Linked DNA regions of Homo sapiens: region 2 is linked to region 1. Evidence: fine-mapped expression QTL. A gene starts in region 1. The other region holds a variant in brackets. All regions are shown on one strand. Distances are between the middles of the regions.

Evidence for each region. PIP is the estimated chance that this variant, and not a neighbour inherited with it, causes the effect.
Region 2: its variant is fine-mapped to the expression of CELSR2 in liver (GTEx, PIP 0.96).

The regions. Positions count from the first base shown.
Region 1 is chr1:109,247,897-109,250,791 of GRCh38, forward strand. CELSR2 (cadherin EGF LAG seven-pass G-type receptor 2) reads left to right here and starts at 1,643. Exons shown (of 34, transcript NM_001408.3): 1 at 1,643-2,895. The coding sequence starts at 2,184. RefSeq lists an enhancer at 960-1,680 and silencers at 1,682-1,741, 1,902-2,001.
Region 2 is chr1:109,273,123-109,276,017 of GRCh38, forward strand. CELSR2 (cadherin EGF LAG seven-pass G-type receptor 2) reads left to right here. Exons shown (of 34, transcript NM_001408.3): 32 at 44-214; 33 at 314-548; 34 at 900-2,629. The coding sequence ends at 927. Among named protein-coding and RNA genes, the nearest start is that of PSRC1, 8.6 kb to the right of the region's middle. RefSeq lists an enhancer at 1,130-2,895 and cis regulatory regions at 1,842-1,861, 1,846. The variant G/T (reference allele first, on the strand shown) is at 1,846.

The DNA of each region.
Region 1 (2,895 bases):
CTTGGCCTTGCTCAGAGGAAGAAAGCTCCTGTTTGGTCAAAGGGGAGGGCATTTCCTTGAGCCATGGGTCCTCCTCCTACTTCTATCCATCCTGCCAGGAGCACAGTCTAACCCTAATCTTTCTTGCTGTACCCAAGGCCCATCTCCTTTCCTGTTTCCCCAGGGGAAAAGAGAAAAGCTGATTTCTCATCCTTGGCCTCACTGTGTGGTCACACAGACACTCCTTGGGCCTGGGGCTGGGGGATCCTCTGCTGTGACCCAGTGAGAGTGGCACCACTGTGACCGGGGGCAGTGGTAGAAGGGAGCACCTGATCCAGTGCTTTTCAGATGGGTTCCTCCAGACCCTCAAGTTGCACAGAGCAGCCCAGGGATTTCTTGGTTGGGGGAGTGGTGGAGAGGGGCAAGGCCCTGACCCCCTCACTTCAACCCAGCAGCACTACTCATCTGTTCTATATTCTGGCCTTCCACTTCAGATTTCTTTTGAAGAAAAGAATTCTACTGCTAAATAAACATTTGAGAACCATTCACCTTATTCAATCCCCTCATTTTACAAAAAGGGACATTGAGGCACAGAATTTGAGCAAGGTCACATAGCTGTGGTGTTGGAGGCTGGGACCCAGGCCCAGGCATCCCCCCAGGCCAGGGCATCCCCCCAGGGACTACCTGACTGGGCCCCTGGCTGCTCCAGGATGTAGGGAAGCCTTTTCTGGGTCGCCTGCACGGCTCCTGCCTGGCTCTCCGTGTGGTCCAGCTTCATGTCTGGTCCTCTTGGAGAACCCCTGGAATCCTGCACACCCTCTCAAATGAAGCTGCCTTGGAGAGGGTCAGGAGCCCGGGTACCAGGTAGGCCTCCTCGCTGGTCACAAAACTGTGGCGGAAGGAGGGGGTAGCCGCAGGACATGGACAGGGAGGCAGGAGGGGATGAGAGGCCGCCTCTCTAGACAGGACCTCAGGGGGCAGTGTAAGCCCCTTGTCTAGAATCCAGGAAGCCTGTGTTAAAGCTAGGCTCCACCGCAGCCGGCCTCCGAATCTGGTGACAGTGTGTTTGCACCACCTGGCTTCCACCCACTCTGACCCTTCTAATTTACTTCCCTGGAAAAGCCCAAGTGGTGTCCAACATGAGGCTGGGGTCATTCTTCCAACAGCCCGACCCCAAGGGGCATGCTGGTCAGACAACAGCCTCGCTGGTGGGGTGGAGGGGACGGTAGGGAGCGAGTGGGCCCGGTGACTCATTGTGGGTGCTTCTCTGGGATTTTGGAGGCTTTGTTGTGTTGCTCAGGGCCCTTTTAACTCTGTCTGACCTATGGGAGGGGACAGCAACGAGGGCTTTTATGACTGGAATGAACTGGAAACTTGGCCTCTGAGAGCCCTTAAAATGTTTTGGAAACCTCTAGGCATACTTAGGGTACTTCCACCATGATTATCATCGGCTGTGTGGCTTCCGATCGCTAATTCGCACCGGGCATCTGGCGAGGCCGGCCTGGGGAAATTGGGATGGAGGGTCCTGCTGGAGGGAATCCTGGCGCTTTGGGCGGAGGAGTGCTCTGGGTGGGGCCCACCTCCTCCAGCGCGGCCGGCGTTGCCGCTTTAAGGCGGCCGCGGCGCGAGCAGGTCTATGGTAATGAGCCGCCGCCGCGACTCTGCAGAGCTCGCCCGCCCGCCGGGGAGGCGAGGGAGCGCGGGGCTGGGCCCGGGGCCGCGGCGACAGGCAGCAGCCGCGGCGGGGACGCGGGGCGCGAGCGGGCGGCGCGGGACCGTCGGGGGCCGCCGGGGCCGGGCCGGGGTCGGGGCGCACGGCTACGCGGGCGCAGGTGGGCGATCCCATAGGGGCGGAGGGGGCACCCCGGCTCCGGAACCCGGGGCCCGGCAAGGCCAGGGGCGCCGCGGGGCCCCCGGGCGCAGGTGGTGAGTGCCCGGAGCGCAGGTGGAGGCGCGGCGGCAGCCCGCGGTGCTCAGGGTGACCCGGGAGCGGGTCTGGCTCAGGGGGCAGTGGGAGCCCGGGCTCGTCGGAGGGTGCAGCGCGGGGTCCCGCCGAGCCATCCAGACGCAGGCCCCGCGGGGCGCACGGGAGGCCCCCGGGGACTGGCGCCCTGGCCCGGGCATGAGGCGCGGCGGGGCCGGCAGGAGCCGGAGGAGGAGCCGCCGCCGCCGTTGACCCGGCCGCCGGCCGGGAGCTGGGAGAGATGCGGAGCCCGGCCACCGGCGTCCCCCTCCCAACGCCGCCGCCGCCGCTGCTGCTGCTGTTGCTGCTGCTGCTGCCGCCGCCACTATTGGGAGACCAAGTGGGGCCCTGTCGTTCCTTGGGGTCCAGGGGACGAGGCTCTTCGGGGGCCTGCGCCCCCATGGGCTGGCTCTGTCCATCCTCAGCGTCGAACCTCTGGCTCTACACCAGCCGCTGCAGGGATGCGGGCACTGAGCTGACTGGCCACCTGGTACCCCACCACGATGGCCTGAGGGTTTGGTGTCCAGAATCCGAGGCCCATATTCCCCTACCACCAGCTCCTGAAGGCTGCCCCTGGAGCTGTCGCCTCCTGGGCATTGGAGGCCACCTTTCCCCACAGGGCAAGCTCACACTGCCCGAGGAGCACCCGTGCTTAAAGGCTCCACGGCTCAGATGCCAGTCCTGCAAGCTGGCACAGGCCCCCGGGCTCAGGGCAGGGGAAAGGTCACCAGAAGAGTCCCTGGGTGGGCGTCGGAAAAGGAATGTAAATACAGCCCCCCAGTTCCAGCCCCCCAGCTACCAGGCCACAGTGCCGGAGAACCAGCCAGCAGGCACCCCTGTTGCATCCCTGAGGGCCATCGACCCGGACGAGGGTGAGGCAGGTCGACTGGAGTACACCATGGATGCCCTCTTTGATAGCCGCTCCAACCAGTTCTTCTCCCTGGACCCAGTCA
Region 2 (2,895 bases), 25 kb after region 1:
TATCTGCCCTCTGTGGGCCTCATCTACTTCCTTTCCCCACCAGATGGGGGCCCAGGGCCTGGCAAGGCCCCCTGGCCAGGAGACTTTGGGACCACAGCAAAAGAGAGTAGTGGCAACGGGGCCCCTGAGGAGCGGCTGCGGGAGAATGGAGATGCCCTGTCTCGAGAGGGGTCCCTAGGCCCCCTTCCAGGCTCTTCTGCCCAGCCTCACAAAGGTGAGTGGGGCACCCCCAGCTGCCGAGCTCCCCTAGTCAGCAGCCTCATACCTCACATTCTCCTGTGGCCGCACCTCACAGCCCCGCCCCGGCCCACAGGCATCCTTAAGAAGAAGTGTCTGCCCACCATCAGCGAGAAGAGCAGCCTCCTGCGGCTCCCCCTGGAGCAATGCACAGGGTCTTCCCGGGGCTCCTCCGCTAGTGAGGGCAGCCGGGGAGGCCCCCCTCCCCGCCCACCGCCCCGGCAGAGCCTCCAGGAGCAGCTGAACGGGGTCATGCCCATCGCCATGAGCATCAAGGCAGGCACGGTGGATGAGGACTCGTCAGGCTCCGAGTGAGTGTGGCCGGGTGGGCGGGACGGGGTGCAGCCCCTCGGAGGCCTCACCTGGGCCCAGAGCTGCCTCCGGGCCTCCCCAGGTGACTCTGGATGGCATTTGGAGGACAAATGGGCAGAACTGGCCCAGCTCCCTTACTATGCCGTGCCCACAAACCATGGTGCCTTGCGGGGAGGGCCACCCCTCCTAGGCTCTACGCGGCGCAGCCCAGCCTAGGGCAGAGTGCGGGAGGATGGGGAGCTGGGGGTGCTTTCCTGTTTCCTTCGTCTGGTGAAAGCTTTCACTCTCTCCTCTGTTTCAACTAACCCTCTGTCTGCCTTTTCTGCCACTTTCCTTTCCTGCCTCTCCAGATTTCTCTTCTTTAACTTCCTGCATTAACCCTGGGCCGTGGTTCCTACGCCCGAGGCTCCCTTCCCTTCCCCAGCCGCACTCATGCCCTGCTCCTGTCTTGTGCTTTATCCTGCCCCGCTCCCCATCGCCTGCCCGCAGCAGCGACGAAACGTCCATCTGAGGAGCCTGGGCCTTGCCGGGAGGGGTACTCACCCCACCTAAGGCCATCTAGTGCCAACTCCCCCCCCACCATTCCCCTCACTGCACTTTGGACCCCTGGGGCCAACATCTCCAAGACAAAGTTTTTCAGAAAAGAGGAAAAAAAGAATTTAAAAAAGGATCTCCACTCTTCATGACTTCAGGGATTCATTTTTTTTATACGCTGGAAATTGACTCCCCTTTCCCTTCCCAAAGAGGATAGGACCTCCCAGGATGCTTCCCAGCCTCTCCTCAGTTTCCCATCTGCTGTGCCTCTGGGAGGAGAGGGACTCCTGGGGGGCCTGCCCCTCATACGCCATCACCAAAAGGAAAGGACAAAGCCACACGCAGCCAGGGCTTCACACCCTTCAGGCTGCACCCGGGCAGGCCTCAGAACGGTGAGGGGCCAGGGCAAAGGGTGTGCCTCGTCCTGCCCGCACTGCCTCTCCCAGGAACTGGAAAAGCCCTGTCCGGTGAGGGGGCAGAAGGACTCAGCGCCCCTGGACCCCCAAATGCTGCATGAACACATTTTCAGGGGAGCCTGTGCCCCCAGGCGGGGGTCGGGCAGCCCCAGCCCCTCTCCTTTTCCTGGACTCTGGCCGTGCGCGGCAGCCCAGGTGTTTGCTCAGTTGCTGACCCAAAAGTGCTTCATTTTTCGTGCCCGCCCCGCGCCCCGGGCAGGCCAGTCATGTGTTAAGTTGCGCTTCTTTGCTGTGATGTGGGTGGGGGAGGAAGAGTAAACACAGTGCTGGCTCGGCTGCCCTGAGG[G/T]TGCTCAATCAAGCACAGGTTTCAAGTCTGGGTTCTGGTGTCCACTCACCCACCCCACCCCCCAAAATCAGACAAATGCTACTTTGTCTAACCTGCTGTGGCCTCTGAGACATGTTCTATTTTTAACCCCTTCTTGGAATTGGCTCTCTTCTTCAAAGGACCAGGTCCTGTTCCTCTTTCTCCCCGACTCCACCCCAGCTCCCTGTGAAGAGAGAGTTAATATATTTGTTTTATTTATTTGCTTTTTGTGTTGGGATGGGTTCGTGTCCAGTCCCGGGGGTCTGATATGGCCATCACAGGCTGGGTGTTCCCAGCAGCCCTGGCTTGGGGGCTTGACGCCCTTCCCCTTGCCCCAGGCCATCATCTCCCCACCTCTCCTCCCCTCTCCTCAGTTTTGCCGACTGCTTTTCATCTGAGTCACCATTTACTCCAAGCATGTATTCCAGACTTGTCACTGACTTTCCTTCTGGAGCAGGTGGCTAGAAAAAGAGGCTGTGGGCAGGAAAGAAAGGCTCCTGTTTCTCATTTGTGAGGCCAGCCTCTGGCTTTTCTGCCGTGGATTCTCCCCCGTCTTCTCCCCTCAGCAATTCCTGCAAAGGGTTAAAAATTTAACTGGTTTTTACTACTGATGACTTGATTTAAAAAAAATACAAAGATGCTGGATGCTAACTTGGTACTAACCATCAGATTGTACAGTTTGGTTGTTGCTGTAAATAGGGTAGCGTTTTGTTGTTGTTGTTTTTTCATGCCCCATACTACTGAATAAACTAGTTCTGTGCGGGTACAGCACTGTCACTGTCCGCTTCTGTGTGGTACCCTGTCCTCCCACAGGGAGGAAGGTCTGGTCTCTGGAAAACAGAAGAGCCGGCAGGGCCCAGAAGGCCCCACCGGGAGGTCGGGAGACTCAGACACCACTGGCTGATAAGCCTGTCCCTCTGCCCATGTCCATGACACTGCTCCCAAATAGCTGGATCAGCACAGAGCCCATTTCCTGGCATTTCCAAGGAAGACATGGTGGGCGGGCAGGAAGGTGTCCTTTTCACCAGGACG